Linked DNA regions of Homo sapiens: region 1 is linked to region 2. Evidence: fine-mapped expression QTL. Tissue or cell type: whole blood. Region 2 holds a variant in brackets; the other region holds the start of a gene. All regions are shown on one strand. Distances are from middle to middle.

Region 1 (8,107 bases), 140 kb after region 2:
GAGGCTGCCATCACGCCTGGCTAATTTTTGTATTTTTAAGTAGAGACGGAGTTTCGCCATCTTGGCCAGGCTGGTCTTGAACTCCTGACCTCGTGATCCACCTGCCTCGGCCTCCCAAAGTGCTGGGATTACAGGTGTGAGCCACCATGCCCAGCTGAAAACCGTTTTCCTAAGTCTAGCTTATAAAATATACTAATTGATTATCTTTAAATAACTAAGTTGGCCAGGCATGGTGCCTCACGCCTGTAATCCCAGCACTTTTGGAGGTCAAGGTGGGCACATCACCTGAGGTCAGGAGTTTGAGACTAGGCTGGCCAACACTGTGAAACCCCATATCTACTAAAAACACAAAAATTAGCCGGGCATGGTAGCACGTGCCTGCAGTCCCAGCTACTCAGGAGGCTGAGGCACTAGAATTGCTTGAACCCGGGAGGCAGAAATTGCAGTAAGCCGAGATTGCATCATTTCACTCCAGCCTGGGTGACCAGAGGGAAACTATATCTCAAAAAATTAAAAAAAAAAAATTAATTGAATAAATAAAATAAGTTATTTACAGCCTTTTTTTTTGGAACATTGAAAGGGCAACTAGCTACAAATGAGAGAAATTCAGTGCAATACAGGCCCTTTATACTATAAATATTTTACAGCAGTGAAACGTAAAGAGAGCGCAAAATGTTTTTGCCATTCAGTTCAGTCTACCTCTAACCTTTCCGACTCTTTTGTGAGAACTGATAATAAAACAGAGAATTTTGAAAAGAAAGAAAAAAAAGCTATTTGCCAAAAATATCTCCCTTGGAAATGCATTATCCTCAGAACAGCATCCAGCCCATGCCACAAGACTGAAGGCATTTTCTGCTCTAGCGCAGAACTACTTCTCCAGATCCCCTTCCTCAAGAAATGAAGTCTACTTATTTTTGTTCCACCTCAATAGTTGAGAGTACTGACCCCAGAAACTACAGGAATCAGCAGTATGCTAGAATCAAGATATGCACGAATTTTACCTATAAAATTATCTTCTTTTCTGTGTGAAGGGCAGAAATGAACAGTGTAACCTTTATCCATTCTCCCAGCTTGAGCCAAGATGATACTTCAGACACCCGTGGCAGGCAGCCTAGTTTGTTGTTGTTGTTGTTGTTAAGATCTTTGCAGGAAATCAGTTTACAACCTTGGGATGTTTTTAACTCTAACATGCGCAAAGTCATCTTAAATGTCTCACAAGCTTCCGCTTCAGGAAGTCATCTTTTTTAAACTTACTACCACTGAAAGGCTATTTCTCCTAAAACTGACTTTGCTTGATACAGCAGCGATACCTCATTCTTACACAATGACATTAAAACTTAGGGAAAAAGGAAATACAGCTATAAAGTAAATGACAAAAACTTGAACCCACACACACTAACAAAACTGGTTTAGGGCCTCATTTTAAGGATTCTCACCCTTCCTTTTGCCCAAGAATCTTCTAGGCGGTTTACTAAAAAAGTGGCTGTCCTTTTTCAGACCTCGATTCAGGATTCAGCTTCAGATACGTGGAAACTAGACATTCCTAAAGATTCTCACCACCACATAAAACTAAAACAAGCTCTTTACTGCTCAGGATTACAGGGCAATTTCCAGCAATTACAGTCATTCAGGGATTCTAGGACCTGCCTGAACTGCACGAGACCCTTACTACTTCACACTCTCCATCTCCCCATTGGCTTTTGACATTTTCCCTGCTCAAGGGCCAAGCAGTATTTGAAAGGCTGAGGGAAAGATCGAGACATTAACTTCTCATGGACAGCTCTAATTAAAAAAGAAAATGAAAAACTTGTAGAGTAAGAAATCCATTTTCCTTTAAAAACTACAATTTATGATTAGCTGAGCCTCCTCCCATCACCAAAAGTTGGCATTCCCTCCACTCTACCCAGACGTTCCCTGTTCATAACACTGTTTCATCACGTCATATTATCATTGTGACTTCTTCCTCCACTAGAGGACAAGAGCTGTTTTGTAATCAGCACCCACCACCATCTCTATTACATAGTAGGTGCTTTAAATATGTTCACTGGCTTTTATTCTTGCCCTGTCTCCCAATGGATAATTAATATTCTATTGGATCTGTCCTGGCATAGGTAAAAAGTTATCTTATAGAAATCAGTTACCGGGTTATAGATGATATTCTGTAGGTTGTTTAAGGACAACATCATTCTTTTCCAGCTTCTTGTCGATTGGAGTCTCTTCTGTGTATGACCTAAGATTTTAGGCAAGTTTCATTTAAAGGTTACCTGGATTGAAACTGAGGCACTGGCCCTGTGTAAAGTAAAAATAGAGGAAAAGAAAAGTAAGCATGTAGCATTTTTCTTCATATCCTATTTTAAAATTTAAATTATATATTATGTTACTGATATTTACCAAATAATAGAATATTATTACAATCAACGATCTGCCTCCCATTCTTACCAGTGTGCTCATATACTAAATAATTTTGGATTGTGAGTGTAGGAAATATTGACTTAAAAAATACATCAGTAGAAAATTTCTAACATGGAATTTATTATTAAAAATACTAAAATAGGCCAGGCATGGTGGCTCACACCTGTAATCCCAGCACTTTGGGAGGCCAAGGCGGGTGGATCACCTGAGGTTCAGGAGTTAGAGACCAGCCTGACCAATATGGTGAAATCCCATCCCTACTAAAAATACAAAAATTAGCCAGACGTAGTGGCATGCACCTGTAGTCCCAGCTACTCAGGAGGCTGAGACAGGAGAATTGCTTGAACCTGGGAGACGGAGGTTGAAGTGAGCCGAGATTGTGCCACTGCACTCCAGCCTGGGCAACAGAACGAGACTCCATCTCAAAAAAAAAAAAAAATTTAATTAATTAATGGTAAATACTAATCAAACAGTCCCGTACAATTACCAGAGGTATTCATTTAGATTTTCATTTCCATAAAATGAGAATTACAGTATTCACATCATTGGTTTGTTCTGAGGATTGAGTTAATAAAACAGCGAAAGAGTAAGCGCTATGTTAGCTATTATTATTGTGAATAGAAAGAATTGCTCTTCCTCCTCCAATTTAAACAAATCAAAGTAGGGAAAAATCCAATACTTTTAATACTATTAAGATACGGTTTTCTCTGTTGCTTAAAAAAATAATAATCACAGGGCAGGGGAGTGTTGGAAAGCATCAGCCACATTTTTTAAGATAAAAGCACTCATGGACACTACACTACATTTAATAGCTCCAGGAAAAACTCGACTTTAAGCAGAACTAAAGGGGAAATGAAACCAGAGCTTCCTGTATTTTACTTCCAGCAATTCTGTCATTATACTGCACACCAACAATACACACCGATCAAATCTATCACTTTTTCTTTATTAAGAAAAAAAACTGTATCCCTCTTGGTTTACCACCTAAATATAGCCCCATGTCATTAACTTAATTCGTTAGTCAAAACCTCAAAACTCTGGCTCCGTGACTCAATTCAGGAAGTAAGAACAAGAGCAAAAAGAATGGATGCCGAGTTGCCATACACATGTATAATAACAAGCCAGTGACCCAATTTAAGCCATCTGCTTGCATTAAATCACGCAACCCCCGAAGTATCCCCAGGGACAGGTCCCGCCAGCATGAACACTTCGTATGCATCACAAGCAGCCATCACTTAAGTTTCACGTACGGTCAAAGGAAGTCACATGACTTGCGCTTTGCAATGTTTAACACTGCAGTCAAATGACTCGGCATCCTAAAGAGCGTGTTAGAGGCAGGGAACGCAATGGAGGTCACTCCACTGTCACTACAAATTCCGGGAAGGAAACTTCCCCAGATTCCTCCACTTGGAGGTGGCGCTCGGCCTCAGGCTAGGAGGGAACAGGTGAGAAAGCAGCCCAGGTGGGGTGGGTTTGCAGCGAGGAGACACCCCAGGGCAAACAGCCTGACCCCAGCCAGGGATGTCCAAGAAAGGCCGCGACTCCTGATAATCCCTTATGCCCCGGAGCGCCTCGCCTGCAGAGGCAGCGTCCCCGCCACCCAGCCCCGGCTCTGCCGCGGTGAGGACCGGCGGGTCGGGGTGGACTGGACACTGTCCCACCCATCAAATGGTGATTTAGGAGCCGTGACATCCGAATGCCATCCTCCACTGGCGAGACCCTCAGAGCAGCCACGCCTCTAGCGACTGCCCCGCCACCCGAGGCCGGGGGTCGCGCGACTCACCCAAAGACTGGTGTTTCAGGCGCTCCACGGAGCAGGTTGTTTGTCAGCAGCTAAGTGCCGTCAGGGTTCCCGGCTCTGGCGTCCGTGGGCGGCTACGGGAAGCGACAGGAGTCAGTCCTCGTTCACTTCCCGGCTCGCGCGCCTCACTGCTGTGGTCTCCCCACCCTCCCCGCGCCCCGCCTTCTGTGTCTGGGGCGTCCCTGGCGGCTCTGCTGGGTTTTGGACAGGGACCCGCCGCTGATCGCCACCCAGCTCGGCCTCCTGCACAGCCTCTGGAGCCTTGGACCGCGACTGGCTTGCTGTGGGACGAGCACAGAGGGATAAGGACAAAGAATGTGTCCTGGGTGGATCTGGCTGCCTTTGCCCGGAAGGCGGAGTGGGGTGGGAGGTGGTAGGAAAATGGGAAGGAAAGAAAAGAAAGGTGGGCCGACGTCCACCTGGCTGTTCCAGGCCTCCAGGTCTAGGAGGGAGGGCGCTCGGGGCTGGGACTTTTCAGGACCAGGGTGGTCACCGCACAGGCCCCGCCTGCCTGGACCAAGCGCTGGCCTTCCCGGGGCGCCCAGGTCCACGGGGTCAACGCCAGGGTTTTCTCAGCTTCCTCGTCTGCCTCGGATCCAAGTCCAGACAGTGCCAGAAGAGACTTGGAGGCGCTGCTTTTTGACAGTACACACCTCTGTATGCAGGTGAAACGGTGGGGGAAGGGTTCAGTACGCTGGACTGTGCCCAGCCCAAGCTCCCCATCCGTTAGTGATAACTTGGACTCGCAGCCACTCCGCGTCACTCGCCAGTTATCCTGCGTGTGGGTGTTTTCTCCAAATTGGACACTTAGGGAACAGTTTAAGCAGTATGGAGCACAATTCTGTGCCTATTAGATGCTCTTAAATACCCGACTTCTCAGGGCCCTACACTGACTGATAGTTTGACCTATTGGCTGTAAACACACCAGCCAGAAATACAAATAAAGTTAAACAAAGTCATGTCAGCCACTTGGAATGGCTGGCTGCTTACTGTTTATTTTCTGTTAGGGACCTCAAAGTTCTCATCTTCTCTACTTGGCTTTTATCCACATTTGTTTGGAAAGATATATTTTAGTGTCATTAACGTGGGCTTTCTCCTCCCTGGCTTTTGTTTTCATTATTTTTTGTTTTAATTGAGGAATTCATTACAAGTCCCATAACTGGGAACTCATGTTCTGATTCACTGTTGCTTTTCTCTCCTCCTTACCCATTTTCCAAGCCTGATGCACTTCTCAAGATCCAATCTGAATAGGTGAATTTACCCTTGACATACACTGCCTTGGATTTATAGCTGTCTTTTGGTATGTGTTGTGTGTTTTATCTATCCAACTCGACTGTAGTTTGAGAAAAGGAACTTGTCTTATACAGTCTCCAGTGCATAGTGTAATGCTTTGCATAAAATAGATATCAATGTTAGGTTGAAATGTTAGATTATTGATAAAGTCAGGAGCAATTGAATATCTTCACAATTCTGCCTGAGTCTCCCCCCAGCCCCGCCACTTTGAGACAGGGTTTCCCTCAAGTGATCCTCCCACCTCAGCCCCAGGAGTAGCTGGGACTATAGACGCACACCACTATGCCCAGCTAATTTAAAAATTTTTTTTTGTAGAGACAGGGTCCACTGTGTTGCCCAGGCTGGTCTCAAACTCCTGGGCTCACAATATCTTCCTGCCTTGGCCTCCCACAATGCTGAAATTACAGGCATGAGACACCAAGCTGGGCCCTGAGTCAACCTTGTACTTCTTTACAAAGCTAAAATAAGTTGAAATAAGTACACATAAATGCTGTGTTTCTTTTGTAAGTCATATTTAGGTGCAAACGGGGCTGAGTGAAAGGGCCAGAGAGCAGAGTTAACAAAGAAAATCTGGATTAAAATGTTCATAAATCCTAAGAACTTATTCCTAGAAATATCTCCCTCATTTGGCACTGTTGTTCAATTAGCCCAGTGTGTTATTTTAAATAAGCAAATATTCACTGAATGCCTATCATGGCCAGGCACAGCAGTAAAGAATACTAGCATGCAAAGGACCTCATGGGCCCTTCTAGATAGAGTCCCACATCTCTTACATTATTACTGCAGTATCCTAATCGGTCTCCCTATATTTGCCCTTGCCCCTCTGCAATGTAGTCTCAACACAACAGCCAGAGAAGTCATGACAAAACATAATTCAGATCATGTTAATCCCTTACTAAAACCTACTTTTTTTTTTTTTTGAGGCAGTCTCACTCTGTTGCCCAGGTTGGAGTGGAGTACAGTGTTACATTCTCAGCTCACTGCAGCCTCTGCCTACCGTGTTCAAGTGATTCATGTGCCTCAGCCTCCTGAGTAGCTGGGACTACAGGTGCGCGCCACCATGCCCAGCTAAGTTTTGTATTTTTAGTAGAGATGAGGTTTCACCATGTTGCCCAGGCTAGTCTTGAACTCCTGACCTCAAGTGATCCGCCCGCCTCGGCCTCCTGTAACCTGGGATTGCAGGTGTGAGCCACTGCATCCGGCCAACCGTCTACTAATTTTTGCTCATTCTTTGAGTAAAGATCCAGTTCTTACACGAGCACTTCCTGATCTGCCCGAATCCTCACACACTGTGATTTCATCTCCTACTACTTTCCTTCTCACTTTTTCTGCAGCAGCCACAGCGACTTTGCTATTCTCCTAGCAGGCCTGTCACACTCCCATCCTAAAATCTTTACTCAATATTTCCTTTTCCCTTTTCAAGTCTACTCAAATGTCAGTTCTCAGTGGGGCCCTTCCTGACCACCAATATTTAAAATTGCAAACACTCTCCCAAAACACACTCATACACACTCCCTAGCAACTCTTCCTTGCTTTATTTCTGGCTAACATTTGTCATGCTAATATACTATATAAGGTGCCTTTTTATTTTATGTTACTTCACCCATCATAAGACTATAAACTCCATGAGGGCAAGGAGTTTTGATTGTTCTTGTTTCGAGGAAGCTTATACTCTAGTTGAGGACACATACAGTGATGTGTTTTAGAGAAGATTAAATTGGGAGCACCTGAGTGGCAACCTTAGTTGGGTGACAAGGAAAGTCTCTCAGAGGAGTCAAAGTTTAAGCTGCTGGTGAGTGAAAGAAAGGAAACAGCCATATGAAGATGGTGGGGAAGAGCATTCCAGCCTTAGCGAGCAGCTGCTGCAAAGTCCCTGAGGGTCTTGAGAATGCATTAAATGTGTTCAGGAAACAAAGGCCACCAACCAGTATGGCTGAAGCATGAGGGAAGAATGATATGACATCATGAGATTGGATGGCACCACCTAGGAGAGTAGTGGGAGAAAATCACCTCGGACAGCCCTGGGGAGATAAGACAACGCCAATAAATGAGACTGAGAAGGGACAACCAGGGGAATTTGCTGAGAGTGGTGTCACAGATGCCAAAGAAAGAGAAACAGCCTGTGTGCCAAGTGTGCTGAGAGGCCAAGGAGGACGGAAGTAAGCAATGGGCTTAGGAACATGGATGTCATTGCTGACTCTGACTCTGAAGTGTGTTGAGAAATGGGAGGTGAAGAACTGGTGGAAACCATGACTATAAAGATTTCAGAAAGGTTTGCTGTGAGGAGGAATGGAGAAGCAGCATTATAGCTGAGGAAGGAGTGGAGCAAAGGGCAGATTCAGGTTTTCTCCTGTTGTTTTTTTTTTTTTTTTAAAGAGAAGATACTACATTGGTGACTTTTAGACTTCTTTTTTTTCAAGTGACCTGCCATAAGAATTACATTTCCATTGAGACTTACTACACACATACTTAAAATTACGAAAACAAAAATTTTGACCAGGCACGTTGGCTCACTCCTGTAATCCCAGCACTTTGGGAAGCCGAGGCAGGTGGATCACTTGAGGTCAGGAGTTTGAGACCAGCCTGGCCAATATGGTGAAA
Region 2 (8,107 bases):
ATTTGATGGAGGCAGAGGAAGATAGAGAAAGGAATCTAGGTTTCCTCTTAGGTTCCTGACTTGGCCAGTGGGTGGATGTACCACTCCTTGAGACAATAGAGAGAAAGGAACAGGTATAGGAGTATGCAGAAGTCATAGGGAAGATGGTGAATTCAGTTTGGGGACACGTTCAATGGTCAGACCCAACTTGTGGATCTAGGGCAAGGAGAGTGATTTGGTTGGAGGAGAGATTTGGAGGGCATCAGCCCTGGCATAGATGAAATTGCCTTTTGAGAATCTGCTACTCAGGTATGTTATATAGGTATGGTTATATAGGTATAAAGATATGTTATATAGATAAGGTTCTATGCTTGGGACAAAGCCTATTGGTAGGACAAACCTTCATCAAGATTTAAATGGAGATTTAAAAATGGTTATTATGGCCGGGTTTGAGTCCAGCCTGGGCAAGTTAGCAAGATCCCATTTCTAGAAAGAAGAAATAGCCATTGTTTATTCAAATTGTAATCAGGATGTATGGATCTACCGAATGCATCAAAAGGCTAGTTTGTTTCATTTTGGCAGAAAGCCTGAAATTTTGCCATTCTATTTTAATCTTCTTTTTCTTAATTTTGTACATTATATTGAGTAATGTGCTTTCATTATCTTTGTCTGAACATTCATACAAATACACTTGCTATCTGAAAAATCATAAAATTGTTAGAAACTTTTATTTTCTTTATCCAAGAGAAATCTCCAAGCACATCTTTCAAAGATCAATTACACTGAGTGTCTCTTTTCCAGTGCTTCATAATGGACCCTGAAGATCTAGACAGAAAAAAGTCAGGTGGTGGAGGAAGTGTAGGAAGCCCACCACTGAAGGGTTATTAAAGGTTCCTTCTGCAAGACTTGGCAATGATAAAGGGATTCGATGATGAGTTTTGTTGTCTCTTAGTCACAGAAAGTAAGCCAAGTTCCAAGTCTCCCCCGGTAATTTAGTCCTTAAGGCAACTTACCTGAAAATAATACAAGTGTTATGAGGCAAAAGGCAATACAATTTTCTCACTTGATAGGGTCCGAGAACCAGAGGACTCTCTTCTAACTATGGACAGGGTACATCTGCACTTGACATTTTATTTTAAACACTACTTTGTGCTTGGGTTAATTGTCTTTGGTCTAAAGTTCTATAGCAGCAGATGACTCATTTTTTCTCCCTCTACTCTTCTCCAATGTGAGAAATAAGGGAGATTAACTATTAGCGAGTATTAGTGATAGGGGAATCTTAGTGTTCATATCCAGGCCTCTCATTTTAAAGATAAGGATATTGAAGCTAAGAGATTAAGGAGTCTGCCCCAGCTCTAATTATCACTACTGTCTAGAGAGGCAGTGTGCTTCGTGAAAAAGAACTGATATTAGAGCCACGTGGACCCAGGTTCCAGTTCCCTAATTATGTGACTCCAGGCAGCTTTCCTTATCACTCTGAGCTTGATTTCCTTCTTTTTTTTTTTTTGAGGCGGAATTTCACTTTTGTTGCCCAGACTGGAGTACAGTGCCATGATCCTGGCTCACTACAACCTCCGCCTCCCAGGTTCAAGCGATTCTCCTGCCTCAGCCTCTTGAGTAGCTGGAATTACAGGTGCCCGCCACCACACCCAGCTAATTTTTTTGTATTTTTAGTGGAGATGGGGGTTTTGCCATGTTGGCCAGGCTGGTCTCAAACTCCTGACCTCAGGTAATCAACCCCCCTCGGCCTCCCAAAGTGCTGGGATTACTGGCATGAGCCATCACGTCCAACCGGGCTTGATTTCCATACATGTAGAAAATGAAAAACTTGGGTTAGAAAACCGCTAACGTCACTCCAAGTTCTAGCATCTGCAAGTGTTTTCTTAAGATTAGAGCCAACATAACCTGATCCCTAGTCCAGGACATTTTAAATCACACTTTACTCCCCCTCACATTATAAGTCATTGTTTATTTGGCAAAAATCTGCTAAATCCTTGCAATTTCAAATGCTTCTGTCTGCAGACCTGCAGCCTCGCCTGGGAGCTTTACACAGCAGAGCCTTGAGACCTCGCAAATCAGAACCTGCATTTTAACAAGATCATCACTGGCTTGTATGCACATTAAAGTTTGAGAAGCACAGTGTTTAAACAGTCTGTGCTGTAGTATCGATCATAACACCTTTAATTAACCAGTTAATGTTTTAAGCTTAAAAATATACATTGGAGGCATATATAAGCAAACTATTAACCATAAGGATCAAACTCACGTCTCACATCGGCAGGACTTCAGAATTTATATTCAAGATCTGGCATTATCACTTATTACCAGCGTGATGTTAGACAAATTATTCTTCAAGCTTCAGCTTCCCCAGCTGTAAAATGTGAATAATTCTTGCCTTGCATACTTCACCAGGGGTATTACGAAGAACAAATAAAATAATGAATGCAAAATAACATTGTAAATGTTTAATACCATAGAGAAGCAACTTTTAAGAAAGGGAATAGTCCTGACTCTACCAATAATAGAACAAAATGCCTTTGAGAAGTTGATAGGATGGATTTTGTTTATAGAGAGAGGTAATTGCCTTCATACTGAGGTCTATGAAATAATGGGAAGGTCTCTTCCATCCTCCCTCATTCATTCTGTCACCTGAGCAATGTTAAAACTTTTCTAGTGGGAGCCGAGATTTCGTAAAGTTCAATACAATAAATAAATAAAAAGACTCGGCCAGGTGTGGTGGCTCACACCTGTAATCCCAGCACTTTGGGAGGCTGAGGTGGGTGGATCACCTGAGGTCAGGAGTTCAAGATCAGCCTGGCCAATGTGGTGAAACCCCGTCTCTACTAAAAATACAAAAATTTGTCAGGCTTGGTGGCGTGTGCCTGTAATCCCAGCTACTCAGGAGGCTGAGGCAGGAGAATTGCTTGAACCTGGGAGGCAGAGATTGCAGTGAGCTGAGATCACGCCACTGCACTCCAGCCTGGGTGACAGAGCAAGGCTCCGTCTCAGAAAAGAAAGAAAGAAGGAAAGAAGGAAAGAAAGAAAGAAAGACAGAGAGAGAAAGGGAAAGGAAAGGAGGAAGGAAGGAAGGAAGGAAGGAAGTAAGGAAGGAAGGAAGGAAGGAAAGAAAGAAAGGAAGGAAGGGAGAAAGAAGGCTCCATCTTAAATCATGACACTGAGCGAAAGGGAAAAAAATCCTCCTCTAAGAATTTATAAACGTAAGCTGGCCCTCACATTTGTTTGGCCTTACAGTCCAAAATCATACTTCCAAAAATCTCAAGCGAACAGTTTAGCTTTAAATAGTCATCAGAAAGATTAGTGAATTTGAATACTTAGCAAGAGAAGTTATTAAAAATTTTCTTTTTAAGACGGAGTCTTGCTCTGTGGCCCAGGCTGGAGTGCAGTGGCCCGATCTCGGCTCACTGCAAGCTCCGCCTCCCGGGTTCACGCCATTCTCCTGCCTCAGCCTCCCGAGTAGCTGGGACTACAGGCGCCCGCCACCACGCCTGGCTAATTTTTTGTATTTTTAGTAGAGACGGGGTTTCACCGTATTAGCCAGGATGG[C/T]CTCGATCTCCTGACCTTGTGATCCGCCCGCCTCGACCTCCCAAAGTGCTGGGATTACAGGCTTGAGCCACCACGCCCGGCCAAGAGAAATTATTAAAAATTTTAAAAAGAGAGAAAAGAGAATTAAAAAACAGAAACAGAACATCAGTGAGGGTGGAACAGTAAGCAGCCTAATAGACCAAGTAACTGGAATCCTGGAGAAAGAAGAGTTAGAGGAGAGCACAGGAAAAACATTTGAAGAAATAGTGACTGAAATTTCCCCCAATTTAATGAAGACCCATAGAGTGAATATATTCTGTGAAGATGAAGCAGAAGAAACATGAAGAAAACAACATCAAATTGCTCAAAATTTGGGACAAAGAAAAAAATCTTAAGAATAGCTAGGGGAGGCCGGGCATGGTGGCTCACGCCTGTAATCCCAGCACTTTGGGAGGCCGAGGCAGGAGGATCACTTGAGGTCAGGAGTTCAAGGCCAGCCTGGCCAACATGGTGAAACCCCGTCTCTACTAAAAACACAAAAATCAGCTGGGCGGGGTGGCTCGTGCCTGTAATCCCAGCTACTCAGGAGGATGAGGCAGGAGAATCGCTTGAACCCAGGAGGCGGAGATTGCAGTGAGCTGAGATTGCACCATTGCACTCCAGCCTGGGTGGCAAAGTGAGACTTTGTCTCCAAAAAAAAAAAAAAAGTAGCCAGGGGAAAAAAGATGTGTTATACACAGAGAAGAAAGACAGGTTATGAACAGATAAGAATTATAACAGAGTTCTCATTAGAAGCAATGCAAGCCAAAAGGCAGTGAAATAACATCTTAAAGTACTGAAAGAACATTGTAAACCAGGAATCCTATACCCAGTGAAAGTGTCTCTCAAAATAAAGGTAAATACTTTTTCAGACATACAAAAGTGAAAGAACTCATCACTAGAAAGAAATGTTAACATCCTTCAAGTTGAAGGAAAATGATGCCCCATCGAAATAGGGATCTCTACGAAAGAAAGAAGAGCGTTAGAAATAGTAATAACATGAGTGAACATAAGATTTTTTTTATTGTTGAAATATCTCTTAAAATGAATGAACAGTTTAGAAAAATAATAACAATGTAATATGAGATTTATAATATATAAAAGTAAAATGTATGGCAGCACTAGCACAGAGTTCAGAAAAAGAGAAATTAAAGAATATTATTGTAAGGCTTGTATATTGCATGTGAAGTAATAAAATATAATTTCAACATAGACCTCTGATAAGTTAAAGATATATACTACAATCCCTAAAACAATTATTAAGATAACAAATCAAGGAGTTAGGGCTAAAACACCAACAAAGGGGATAAAATCATTAAAAATATTCAATTGATCCAAAAGAAAGCAGGAAAAAAATAGGAAAAAGAATAGATGAAACAAATAGGGAACATTTGGAAGATGATTGACTTAAACCTAACCATGTTAATAATCGCATTAGATGTAAATGGTCTAAACTCCCCACTTACAAAACAGATTATCAGACTGGACAAAGAAGTAAGACCCAACTGTATGCTGCCTATGCAAATACACTTTATATATAAAGTTACACAAAGGTTCAAAGTAAAGGACATCAAGAACTAAAGTACATAAAGTATTTACCCTACTTGCAAGTTAATAATCTGGACTGCTCCAGTTTCATGGATGCTGGTAAAAGACATGAGACTCCTGGGTCAGAGGCAAAGGACTTTATTATTCACATCAATAGCAGTAGCCAGAGTATCAACATTTTTGCACTGCTTTCCTGAGTTTCAAATGCGAGATTCTATGAATATTAGAACGATAATCAAGGAATATTTTTTAAAAACTGTATGTCAAAAATTTTGAACCACTTAGATAAAATGGGCAAATTCCTTAAAAGATATCAATTACTAGATTTTACTCAAGAACAGACACTCTAAATAGCCTGATTGAGGAAATTGAAAGTGCAGTTTAAAACCTTACCACAAAGAAAGCTCTAGACTCAGATGGCTTAACTGATAAATTATACCAGAGACATCATTTCTTTTTACTTTTCTTTTTTTTGAGATGGAATTTCGCTCTTGTTGCCCAGGCTGGAGTGCAATGGCGCGATCTCGGCTCACTGCAACCTCCAGCTCCCGGGTTCAAGCAATTTTCCTGCCTCAGCCTCCCGAGTAGCTGGGATTACAGGCATGTGCCACCACGCCCAGATAATTTTGTATTTTTAGTAAAGACGGGGTTTCTCCATGTTGATCAGGCTGGTCTCGAACTCCCAACCTCAGGTGATCCACCCGCCTCAGCCTCCCAAAGTGTTGGGATTACAGGCGTGAGCCACCATGCCCGGCTGACATCATTTCTATATAAACTTCCAGAAGTTGTACAAGAAAGAATGCTTCTTAATTCATCTGGTAGGGCCAGCGTAACTCATACCAAAATCAGACAAAGTCATTACAAGAACAAAAACTATAAGAAAATATCTTTTTATGAACTTAGATGCAAAATATTCTAAAATAAATTGTGTAAATCAAATACAGTAATATAAAGACCCATAGAGTGAATACATTCTGTGAAGATGAAGCAGAAGAAACATGAAGAAAACAACATCAAATTGCTCAAAATTTGATGTTGAGCAAAAAGAAGAATACATCATGACCAAGTGGGGTTTATTCAAGTATAAAAGGCTGGCTTGATGTTCTAAAACAATCATGTAATTCACCATATCAAAAAGCTAATAAAGAACAACCATAGGCCGGGCGTGGTGGCTCACGCCTGTAATCCCAGCACTTTGGGAGGCCGAGGCGGGCAGATCACTTGAGGTTGGAAGTTTGAGACCAGCCTGGCCAACATGGTGAAAACTCATCTCTACTAAAAATACAAAAATTAGCCAAGCATGGCGGCGGGTGCCTGTAATCCCAGCTACTTGGGAGGCTAAGGCAAGAGAATCGCTTGAACCCAGGATGCAGAGGTTGTAGTGAGCCGAGAACATGCCACTCCAGCCTGGGTGACAATAGTGAGACTCCATCTCAAAAAAAAAAAAAAAGAAAAAAGAAAAACCGTATAATTATCTTGATAGTTGTAGAAAAGACAATCCAAAATCCATTCCTGATAAAAAATAAAAATAAAAATAAAGTCTTCGTGAGCTAGGAATATAGAGGAACTTATTCAACCTGCTAGAGAATAAAACAGAAAACATCATACTCATTGGTGACATATTGAATCCTTCTGTTAACTAAGATCGGAAAAAAACAAGGATTTCATGGTTATTAGTTCTATTCAACATTGTACTGGAGGAAGTATCCAGTGTAAAAAGGCAAGAAAAATAAGTAAAAAGTCATCCACATTGGAAAGGAAGAAGTAAAAGTGTCCTTATATAAAAATGACTTGATTATGTAGAGAATCTGATGGAAACAACAAAAAAGCAACTAAAACTAATAAATGACTCTTATAAAGTTTCAAGATGCAAGATTGATGTACAAAAATCTAGGCCAGGTATGGTGGCTCACACCTGCAATCCCAAAATTGGGAGGCCAAGAAGGGAGGACTGCTTGAGGCCAGGAGTTCAAGACCAGCCTGTGCAACATAGTGAGACCCCATCTGTACAAAAACTTTTTAAGAATCAGCCAGGTTTGGTGGCATGTACCTGTAGTCCTAGCTAAGCAGGAGGCTAAGTAAAGAGGATCACTTGCACCCAGAAGTTCAAAGCTGCAATGGGCTATGATCATGCCACTGCATTCCAGCCTGGGTGGCAGAGTAAGACTTTGTCTCTCTAAAAAAAAAATTGTACCATCAAGAACAATCAGAAAATGCATGACAATAATAGCATAAGTCAGGAACGGGTGCTCAGTGTTGCAGTGGTCTTTAGGTCCTCGTTATTGTCCTGGAGGAGGATAAAGATGTCTATGACTTTAGAAGTTGATATCTTAAATGTCATGTTAAAATTCCCATGTTAACTACCAAAAGAATAGAAATAGAATTTATGGCTTTCAAAGTAGAAGTGGGGAAAAATTGGATCGAGGAAAAAAATACTTCCTTTATCTATAAAAAGACAAGAAAGAAGTGAGGAAAACAGAAAATTGGAGCATATTAGAGCAAATGTGAATGTTGAGGGAAAGAATCCAGAAAAGGAGGAAGTAATGATCTGAGGGAGAAATGGGAGATATGGATCAAGGTATCTATGAAAGGAAGAAAGGAATGGGATCAGAGAGCATGAGAAGGGGACAGACAGGGGCTCACTGAGGGAGGAGGGAAGATGGAGATGTGTGCAAGGATGCTTGGGAGTTTGGTCTCAGGGAGATGAGACACTCATGTTCGATGGCTTTTAGAGCCACCAGGGAGGAAAGGGCATCTGCTGAGGGTACCAGAGGAAGAGGGTGGGGAGGTATGAGATGCTGAGAAGTTCTGCCTACTCAGGAAGCGTGGAAAATACCACAAATAGCAAGAGAGGCAAACTCACCCCTTTACAATTGTGCCTGGTTTCCTAGAAGCCTCTTTCCAGATGGTAGGACCATGCAGAAATATAGCTGAGACTGATTTGAAATCATAGAATGGAAACTGAAACCTTTCCTTTCATTTTTGCTTCATGAGCCAT

The links. PIP is the estimated chance that this variant, and not a neighbour inherited with it, causes the effect.
Region 1: LGALS8 starts here. The variant in region 2 is fine-mapped to the expression of LGALS8 in whole blood (TOPMed, PIP above 0.99).

Annotation. Positions count from the first base shown.
Region 1 is chr1:236,520,150-236,528,256 of GRCh38, reverse strand. LGALS8 (galectin 8) reads right to left here and starts at 4,275. Exons shown (of 10, transcript NM_201544.4): 1 at 4,196-4,275; 2 at 2,142-2,289. The coding sequence starts at 2,186. It overlaps LGALS8-AS1 (LGALS8 antisense RNA 1), which reads left to right and starts at 3,749. Exons shown (of 1, transcript NR_034040.1): 1 at 3,749-5,188. RefSeq lists a silencer at 3,933-3,982.
Region 2 is chr1:236,664,071-236,672,177 of GRCh38, reverse strand. No RefSeq gene overlaps it. Among named protein-coding and RNA genes, the nearest start is that of ACTN2, 18 kb to the left of the region's middle. The variant C/T (reference allele first, on the strand shown) is at 3,544.